2 separate regions of the Homo sapiens genome follow, and region 1 is linked to region 2. Evidence: fine-mapped expression QTL. A gene starts in region 2. The other region holds a variant in brackets. All regions are shown on one strand. Distances are from middle to middle. Region 1 overlaps ACSM1 (acyl-CoA synthetase medium chain family member 1). Region 2 holds the start of REXO5 (RNA exonuclease 5).

Region 1 (5,379 bases), 170 kb before region 2:
CAAAAGATAAAAAATGATATTGTCTATTAATAGAAGGGTCAATTCACCAAGAAGATATAATAATCATAAACATATAAGCAATAAACCTCAGAGCCCCAAAATACATGAAGCAAACATTGTCAGAATTTAAGGAAGAACTGTACAGTTCTACAGCAATAGTTGGAGAATTTAATATACCACTTTCAATAACGAGTAGAAAAACCAGAGAGAAGATCAATAAGAAAATGGAGGACTCGAACACCACCACAAATTAACTGGATCTAGCAGACATATACAGGAAACTCCATCCAACGGCAGAAGAACACACATTTTTCTCAAGTGCACATGGAACATTCTCAAGGATGGACCATATATTAGGCCAGAAGAGAAGTATTAATTAACTTTAAAAGACAGAAATTATACAAAGCATCTTATCAAGTCACATGAAAGGAATTAACAGAAGGAAAACTTTTAAAAAATCACAAATTTTCCCAATCTTTGCAAAATTAAACAACATACTCTTAACTAACCAATGAATCAAAGAAGAAGTCACGAGGAAATTTAGAAATTATCTTGAGACAAATGAAATAAAAAACACAGCATATTAAAACTTATAGATTGCAGCAAACACAGTGCTAAAAAGGTAATTTACACACATACTGTCTTAGCCCATTCAGGCTGCTGTAACAAAATGCCATAAACTGGGTGGGTTATAAACAATAGATATTATCTCTTAGAGCTCTGGAGACTGGGAATGCAAGATCAAGTCACCAACAAATTTGGTGTCTGGTGAGGCTTCATAGATGGCTGTCTTCTTGATGGGGCCTCACATGGAGAATGGGACTCTTCTGGAGAACCCTACTGGAGTTGCTTTTTAAAGGGCACTAATATCACTAATCATCAAGGAAATGCAAATTAAAACCACAATGAGATATTACCTTACTCCTGCAAAAATTGTCATTGTTAAAAAAATCAGAAAACAATAGATTTTGGCATGGTTGTGGGAACACTTTTACACTGCTGGTGGGAATGTAAATTAGTACAGCTGCTATGGAAAACAGTATAGAGATTCCTTCAAGAACTAAAAGTAGAACTACCATTCGATCCAGCAATCCCACTACTGCGTATCTACCCAAATAAAAAGAAGTCATTATATGAAAAAGACATATGCACATGCGTGTTTATAGCACAATTTGCAATTGCAAAGATATGGAACCAACCAAAGTGCCCATCAACCAATGAGTGGATACAGAAAATGTGGTATATATACACCATGGGATGCTATTAAGCCATAAAAAGCTGTGAAATCATGTCTTTCGTGGCAACTTGGAAGGAGCTGGAGGCCATTATTCTAAGTGAAGTAACTCAGAAATGGAAAACCAAATAGCGTATGTTCTCACTTCTAAGTGGGAGCTAAGCTATGAAGGCACAAAGGCAAAGAATGATATAATGGACTTTGGGGACTAGAGGGCAAAGTTGGCAGGGGGTAAGGGTTAAAAGACCACACTGTTCAGGTGATGGATGCACTAAAATTTCAGAAATCACCACTAAAGAACTTATCCATGTAGCCAACAACCACCTGTACCCCCAAAACTACTAAAATAAAAAAATTAAAAGGGCACTAACACCATTCATGAGGACCCCATGCTCACGATATAATCATCTCCAAATATTGCATTGGGGGTTAGGATTTCAACATATGAATCTGGGGGACACACAAACATTCAGTCTTTAGCACATACGTTAAAAAAGATCTCAAGCCGAAAACCTTACACTTTAGGGAACCAGAATAAGAAGAGCAAACTAAACCCAAGCATAGCAGAAGCAGGAAATAAAGATTAGAGTTCATATAAATAAAATGGCAAATAGAAAAACAACAAAGAAAACTTAATCAAAAGTTATTTCTTTTGAAGAGATGACAAGTCTTCAGCTAGATTGATTAATAAAAAAGTGAAAATTTAAATTACTAACATTTTACAGAAATGAAAAGAATTATAAGAGAATACTATGAACAATTGTATGCTAAAAGGTTTGATTACCTAGATAAAATGGAAAAACTACTGGAAACACACAATCTACCAAAAACAGGAGTCACAAAGAAATAGAACTCTGAATAGATCTGTAACTCATAAGGAGGTAAAATTAGTTATCAACACCTTCCAAAAGAGAAAAGGCCTAGGCCAGATGGCTTCACTGATGAGTTCTGACAAATATTTAAAGAAGAATTAAGACCAATCCTTTTCCAACTCTTTTTACAAAATTAAAGAAAAGGAAAAATTTTATAAGTCAATCTATGAGGCCAGCATTACCCTGACACCAAAGCCAGACAAACACTGCAAGAGAAGAAAACTACAGACCAATAACTCTTATGAATATTGATGCAAAAATCTCAGCAAAACACTAGCAAACCAAATCCAGAAACACTTTAAAAGAATTATACATCATGACCAAGTGGGATTTATTCCTGTTTCAACATACAAAAGTCAACAAATATAATAAACCACATTAATAGGATGAAAAGAAAATAACCACAAGGTTTTCTCTCAGTTGAGGCAGAGAAAGCACTTGACAAAACTCAATACCCTTTCATGGTAAAAACACTAAATAAACTAGGAAACTTCCTCAACATGATGAGGCCACATATAAAAAACCAACAGCTAATATTATTCTCAATGGTGAAAGTTGGAAAGATTTTCTCCTAAGACCAAAAACACAAGGATGCCTGCTTTCACCACTTCTATTCTACATAGTCCCGGAAGCTCTAGCCAAATCAATCAGGCAAGAAAGAAAAATAAGAGGCATCTGAATTGGAAAGATGAAGTAAAATTATCTCTGCATGCAGATGGCATGACCATATATAGAAAACCCGAAGAATTTTACACACTCAAAAAAAATGTTAAAGCTAATACATAAATTCAGTAAACTTGTAAAAAACAGAATCCATACACACACAAAAACTCAATTGCACTTCTGTGCACTAAAAATTAAAAATCCAAAGAGGAAATTAAGAAAGCAATTCTATTTACAATAGCATCAAAAAGAATACAAGACAGTAGTACTCATAATAAATTTAATCAGGGAGGCAAAAGACTTGTACACTGAAAACTACAAAACGTTACTACAGAAATTAAAGAAGAGATAAGTAAATGAAAAGACATATGATACTCATTTATTGGAGACTTAATATTAAGATGACAATACTGCCCAAAGCTATCTACAGAGGCAACACAATTCCTGTCAAAATCCCAATGGTTTTTTGTTGTTGTTGCAGAACTAGAAATACCTATCCTAAAATGCATATA[G/C]AATCTCAAAGGACCCCAAACTGCCAAAACAATCTTTAAAAAGGTGAATAAAGGCCAGGCGCGGTAGCTCACATCCATAATCCCAGCACTTTGGGAAGCCTAAGGCAGGTGGATCGCTGGAGGCCAGGAGTTCAAAACAAACCTGGGCAATATGGAGAAACCCTGTCTCTACTAAAAATACAAAAATTAGCCAGTCTTGCAATCTGGCCTCAAAAATAAAAGGAAATAAAAATTTTTGAAAAAGGAGAATAAAGTTGGAAAACTCACACTTCCTGACCTCAAAACTTACTACAAAACTACAGTAATAGAAACAGTGTGGTATTGGCATAAAGACAGACAGATCATTGCAATAGAATAGAGAGTCCTGGAAGAAACTCTCCCATATATTGTCAATTGATTTAAGTATAGGTGCCAAAACCATTCCATGGAGAAAGGTCAGTCGTCAACAAATAGTGCTGGGAAACTTCAATGCCCAATTGCAAAATAATGAAGTTACCTTACAACACATACAAAAGTTAACTCAAAATGGATCAAAAATATTCTGGTGGGTATATAAAATGGTGCAGCCATTGTGAAAGTGGTTTGGTAATTTATTTCAAAAAGTTCAACATAGAATTACCATGGAACCCAGCAATTCCACATCTAGGTCTATACTCCCAAGAAATGGAAGCAGGAACTTGAACAGATACTTAAACAACAGTGGTCATAGAAGCAACATTCTCAATAAGCAAAATGTGGAAATAACCAAAATGTCCATTAAGAGACAACTGAGTACACAAAATGTGTTGTATACATACAGTGGAATTTTATTCAGACTTACAGAGGAATGACATTTTGTTACATGCTAAGACATAGATGAACCTTGAAAACGTTATGCTAAGTGAAATAAGCCAAACGCAAAAGGGCAAATGTTGTATATTTTCACTTATATGAGGAACCTAAAATAGGCAAATTCATAGATTTTAAAAAGCAGATTAGAGATTATCATGTGCTGGAGACTGGGGCAGTGAGATGTTGCTTATTAGTAGAATTTCTGTTTGGGATGGTAAACATTTTCTGAAGATGGGTAATCGTGATGGCTGTACAACATTGTTACTTTATTTGATACTACTGAATTGTACACTCAAAAATGGTGAAAAGAGTAATTTTATGTTACATTTTATATAAATAAAATATAAAGTAAAAAATAAAGTATCTGTTCAAGTTCCTGCTGCCACTTCTTGGTAGTAAGTAGCCTTAGAAGTAGAATTGCTGGGTCTCATGGTAATTCTGTAATTCTTTTACATAAATAAGGAGGGAAAAAAACCCAAAGAAGTCCCAATGGAGGAATACTGACATTTCATGGATACGTAGGTGTGGGTATATGTTAGGAGTTCTTTGGAAAATAAAATATGTCATGCTCAATCAAAAAAAAATTAGCTGGGTGCAATAGCTCACATCTGTAATCACAGCACTTTGGGAGGCTGAGGCAGGGGGGTTACTTGTGCCCAGGAGTTTGAAAGTAGTCTGGGCAACATAGTGAGACCTTATCTCTACAAAAAATCAAAAAATTAGCTGGGCATGGTGGTACCTGCCCGTGGTCCCAGCTCCTTGGGAGGCTGAGTTGGGAATATCACTTGAGCTCAGGAGGTCCAGGATACAGTGAACTTTAATCACGCTCCTGCACTCCAGCTCGGTGACAGAGCAAGACCTTGTTTTTTTCTTTAAATATATTTCTTTGGATTATCCCCATTTCAGCTCAATCAGAATCTCTGGTTGCATCCAAGTACTACTATTTTAAAAAATCTCCTGAAATGATTGTAATATGCAGATATATATCTGTGGTCCTCAAAGATGCCTGGACATTATATAAAATATATGTGTTACCCCATGTTTAATTTTTCTTTTTCTTTCTTTCTTTCTTTCTTTCTTTCTTTCTTTCTTTCTTTCTTTCTTTCTTTCTTTCTTTCTTTCTTTCATTTTGAGATGGTGTCTAGCTCTGTCACACAGGCTGGAGTGCAGTGGTGCGATCTTGGTTCACTGCAACCTCCGCCTCCCGGGTTTAAGTGATTCTCCTGCCTCAGCTTCCCAAGTAGCTGAAATTACAGGTGCATGCCAC
Region 2 (5,379 bases):
TTTTTGAAGGCAGGGCCTCACTATGTTACCCAGGCTCATCTCGAACTCCTGAGCTCCAGCAATCCTCCCACCTCAGCCCCTCAAAGTGCTGGGATTACAGGCCTGAGCCACTGTGTCCAGCCAATTTACACTAATTTTATGTTACCCTTGTTTTACAGTAATACTGAGTAACTCATTTGAGTTCCTACAATCATTTGATTGTAGAGGTAAAAATGCACTGAAAATCTTATTTTTCCCCCTGCATTTTTTAAGCTCTTGCTATGTGTACAGTGCAGTTTTAAGAAGACAAGACAATGTAGGACATGGTTCAGTCTTCCAGTTTAAAAATCTGGGTAAAGAAACAAAAGATAGGGCCAGGTAAAGTGGCTCATGCCTGTAATCCCAGCACTTTGGGAGGCCAAGGCAGGTGGATTGCTTGAGCTCCGGAGTTCGAGACCAGCCTGAGCAACATGGTGAAACCCCGTCTCTACAAAAATTATAAAACCTAGCTGGGGCGTGATGGTGCATACCTGTAGTCCCAACTACTCAGGAGGCTAAGGTGGGAGGATTGCTTGAGCCCGGGAGGTGGAGACTGCAGTGAGCCGAGATCATGCCACTGCACTCCAGCATGGGCAACAGAGCGAGACCCTGTCTCAAAAAAATAAATAAATAAAATAAAATAAGAAAAAAAGAGAAGAGCTTACTGAGGTCTTAAGTGCAAGTAAAACAAACTACTTGGTATTAGCAGGTAGAGTTTTAACTAGGCAGACACCTCCTGTAGTTTTCTGTGTTTGCTAAGAGTGGGAAGTGCCAGGATTTGGGAATAATAAATATCATTTATTGACTGCTTACTACATAGCAGGTACTAAAATTAAACTAAGATGATGGCCTCCTTTAATCCTCAACAAGTGTAGTAGCTAGAAACTTTTCCTACCTATATTTTATGGATGAGAAAACTGATTCTTAATTTGCCAAAGAACATAGCTTTGGTATGTGAACCCAAGACTGTCCAATTCTGAAGCTCATGCTATTTGCTATTATATTACATCTTTCTAGTAATCAGAAATATGCACAGCGCATCCAGGAATCAGGGAGGACACAATAATTCATATTGTGAATTAAAAGGATCACTAGGCCAGGCACCGTGGCTCACACCTGTAACCCCAGCACTTTGGGAGGTTGAGGCGGGTGGATCACCTGAGGTCGGGAGTTCGAGAACAGTCTGACCAACATAGAGAAACCCCATTTCTACTAAAAATACAAAATTAGCTGGGTGTGGTGGTGCATGCCTGTAATCCCAGCTACTTGGGAGGCTGAGGCAGGAGAATGACTTGAACCCGGGAGGCAGAGGTTATGGTAAGCCGAGATCGCACCACTGCACTCTAGCCTAGGCAACAAAACTCCGTCTCAAAAAAAAAAAAAAAGATCACTAGAAAATGGGTTTGTAAAAAGTAGAGGTTCCTCTTCAAAGACTTCCTTCCCCGTCTAATTAGGAATAAATAGTAACTTCTCTTAGAGCAAAATTTATTCAAAGACCTGTGCTAACATTCTTAAATATCTGCTAGATATAATAAAGAAATCAATGTACTTTATGTTCTTAGCTCCCACAATTTAGCCTAAATATTTGCCCTGGCATGCTTATACTGGTCCAATCAAACATTAGGTCATAGCCTGTTCCTCTTCCTTACTTAAAAGTGTTTTTACCTTTCTCAGCATTCCACAAGTTACTTCCTTCTTCCTTTGTTCTCCTCTGCCTTTGCCTCTTTTAAAAAGTTCTATGTTGCTAGTCAGTCGGGACAAATACAGAATGTGAGGTCCCGTTCCAGCCAAAGGAAACCGGACACAGCAGTAGGGTGGACGCGCCACGTTATAAATGACCCTGTCTCCTTTGTTCAGTGTACTCTCCTGGCAAAACTGCTGGCGAGTGTACCCTTTCTGCAGGAAGTAAAAATGGCCTTACTAAATAAATTAAATTTAAGTTTAAGTTCTATTTCTTTACAGCACCGAGGAACGAGCATTTCGAACAGGTTGAACACCTTGACAGATTCAGTGTGTGGCCTGCCTGAGACCTCCAACCAGTCTGCAGGGCACTGTCACGTCCAGTCGTTTCCCAAGGCCTAAAATAGGCAGGCACTGGCTCAAGGCCACACAGTCAAGGCCCCAGGGTTCGTCCGCCTCGGGCTCCTGTCACCCTCGGGTAGAAGGTGGCCCAAGGCTGAAGACCGAGGTCCAGGGAGGCGCCTTTCCAACCGTGCCAGAGAGGGCAGGTCGCAGACGCCGGGGCTGCGGGGAATAGAGGCCCTCACCGCAGATGCCACCTGCCGTGCCCTGCTCTGCGGCCAACGCCAGCGCTGGACCCGGAGCTACCCGCCCCCGACCCGGAACTCCCTCGAGTACCGCGCGAGCCGCTTGGTCGCCATTCCCGACACTCCTTGCTTTTCCAAGTCCAGCTGCCGGAAGTCGCTCGACTTCTACTTCCGGTCCGTTCAAAAAGCCCGCGAGGCTGAGGGGCGGTTGTTGTTGGCAGCTGTGGCTAAGGAGGGGAGAACCTCTGCTCCCCGCCCGTCTTCTCTTCTGCGTTTCCCGGGCTAGGGGGCGTGGGGAGTGGTTTTAGGCGGCGAAGCCGCTCGGCAGCACCTTCCTTCTTTGCCAGGCAGACGCCCGTTGTAGCCGTTGGGGAACCGTTGAGAATCCGGTAACCGATGCGGACGGTAAAGCCGTTTGGGTTAGAGCGGCGCGGGTGTCCAGTCCGCGGAACGGGGAGATCGTTGGCACCTTCGCTTTTTTAGGGGAACGGGGATAGTTCGGTAAACTGAATTGAGAAGCGGATCCGAGGGAGGTTGAAAGCTGTCAAGCCCGTGTAGCTCTCCCGCTAGGAGGCGGCACGCGGGGGAATAGGGGCGCTGGAGTTTCCCCAGCTCTACCTCATCTTTCTCCACAGCCATGGAGCCAGAGAGGGAAGGGACCGAGAGACACCCCAGGAAGGTCAGGGAAAGCAGGCAGGCCCCAAATAAGCTGGTCGGGGCAGCTGAGGCGATGAAAGCCGGTTGGGATCTCGAGGAGAGTCAGCCCGAGGCCAAGGTGAGCAACGGGGATCCCGAGCAGGCGGCCCTAGGCGGTTTGGAGCTCCCGGACCCTCGCCCAACCGCCGTCGGGGGCACTGGATTCGGGCGGGCTCTCCGCCCTGGCCTCTCCGAACCTGATCCCTGATCATTAAAATGGGAATGAGTGTAATACCACCTTCCTGCAACAAGGCTGTCATTGGCTGTCACTGGGATAGTGAGTCGGCCGAGTGCGGTGGCTCATGCCTGTAATTCCAGCACTTTGGGAGGCCGAGGCGGGCGGATCACGAGGTCAGGAGTTCGAGACCAGCCTTGTCAACATGGAGAAATCCCCGTCTCTACCAAAAACACACACACAAAATTAGCCAGGCGTGGTAGTGGGTGACTGTAATCCCACCTACTTGGGAGGCTGAGGCAGGAGAATCGCTAGAACCCAGGAACCAGAGGTTGCAATGAGCCAAGACCACGCCATTACACTCCACCCTGGACAACAAGAAAGAAATCACGTCTCAGAAAAAAAAAAAAAAAAAAAAAAACTGGGATGGTGGGCCGGGTGCAGTGGCTCACGCCTGTAATCCCAGCAGTTTGGGAGGCCAAGGCGGGAGCATCATTTGAGGCCAGGAATTCAAGACCAGCCTGGGCAATATAGCAAGGACCCCATCTCTTAAAAAAAAAAAACAAAAAACAAAACAAAAAAAAAACTGCCTGTACATAATAGGAATGTTCATCGATATCCTGGGGCACAAAAATACAATTCCTTGCCCTCGTGCAGTTTACATTCCAGTAGGGCGGGGGTCCCCAACCCCCTGTGCACAGACTAGTACCTGCCTGTCCATGGGGTCCCCAACCCACTGTCCACAGCTGGCCTGTTAGGAACCGGGCCACAAAGCAGCAGGAGGTGAGCGGTGGCCGATAGAACGTTACCCCCTGAGCTCCACCTAGGCATTAGATTCTCATAGGAATGTGCCAAACCTATTGTGAGCCCTATTGTGAACTTTGCATACGAGGGTCCTAGGTGGCATGCTGCTTATGAGACTCTAATGATAAATGTAATGCACTTGAATCACCCCGAAACCATCCCCCCAGCCCTTCTCCCAGTCAGTGGAAAGATTATCTAACACGAAACCGGTCCCTGGTGCCAACGGTTGGGGACCGCTGCAATAGGGGAATAAAAAGGCTGATTATCCCTATCATCCTTACCATTTACTGAGAACTAAATATACTTCATTCATCCCTTCAGTCGTTCATTGGGCTTTTTTGTTTGTTTTTGTGTTTGAGACAGGGTCTCTGCTCTGCTGGACTCAGGCTGGACTACAGTGGTGTGACAAGGATCCTCCTGTCTCTGCCTCTTACAGGCATGAGCCACTGCACCCAGCTATTCATTGGTTTTTATTGTCTGCCATGTGCTGGGGCACTGACCTAGGTGCTTGGGGTACATCAGTGAATCAAGTTCACTGCCCTAGTAGGTCTTATATTCTAGTGGGCAGAGACAAATGATAAAAATAAGTTATAATATGTGAGAGAGGGATTAGGGATGTGATTTTTTTTTTTTTTTTTTTTTTTGAGGTGGAGTCTCCCTCTGTTGCCCAGGCTGGATTTGGCTCACTGCAACTTTTGCCTCCCAGGTTGAAGTGATCCTCCCACCTCAGTTCCACCAATTAGATGGGACTACAGATGTGTGCCACTGTGCCAGCTAATTTTTCTTTTTTTTGTAGAGACGGGGTTTTGCCATGTTGCCCAGGCTGGTCTTGAACTCCTGGACTTAAGCGATCTGTCCACCTTGGCCTCTGCAAGTTCTGGGATTACAGGCATGAGCCACTGCTTTTTTTTGTTTTTTTTTCGTTTGTTTTTTTTTAAAGAGAGACAGGGTCTCCAACTCCTGGGATCAGGAGATTCACCTGCCTCAGCCTCCCATAGTGCTGGGGATTACATGTGTGAGCCACTGCACCCAGCTGAAAATTTTTTTTATTAAAGTGGGATTCCAGTTTTTTTGCCTATCAAATTTGCAAAAAAATGTTTAATGTTTATGTGGTTAGTGTAAGGAGATTGACAATCACATATTTTGTTATGTTGAAACAATCTCAAACTTTTAGAAAAGTTGTAAGAATAGTATCAAAACCTCCCCTCAACCAACATTTGAAAGTAGTTGCTGACACAATGGTCTTTTTCTACCCACCCTCAAGATATTTTATTATATATTCTCTATAAACCTACATAATCACAATGCAACCATCAAAATTGGAAATTACCATGGATATATCATGACCATCTACTCCTCAGATGCCATCCAAATTTTCTGTAGTTGTTTGAATAACGCTTTTTAGCAATAAGATCCAGT

Evidence for each region. PIP is the estimated chance that this variant, and not a neighbour inherited with it, causes the effect. A credible set is the group of variants that fine-mapping cannot tell apart.
Region 1: its variant is the best candidate, but not a certain one, in a credible set for the expression of REXO5 in pancreas (GTEx, PIP 0.83).

The regions. Positions count from the first base shown.
Region 1 is chr16:20,630,415-20,635,793 of GRCh38, forward strand. All of the region lies in intron 10 of ACSM1 (acyl-CoA synthetase medium chain family member 1), which reads right to left. Among named protein-coding and RNA genes, the nearest start is that of ACSM2B, 57 kb to the left of the region's middle. The variant G/C (reference allele first, on the strand shown) is at 3,282.
Region 2 is chr16:20,804,032-20,809,410 of GRCh38, forward strand. REXO5 (RNA exonuclease 5) reads left to right here and starts at 2,496. Exons shown (of 20, transcript NM_030941.3): 1 at 2,496-2,674; 2 at 2,921-3,060. The coding sequence starts at 2,923. ERI2 (ERI1 exoribonuclease family member 2) reads right to left here and starts at 2,441. Exons shown (of 9, transcript NM_001142725.2): 1 at 2,377-2,441. The coding sequence starts at 2,399. RefSeq lists enhancers at 1,637-2,582, 2,331-2,440, 3,161-3,300.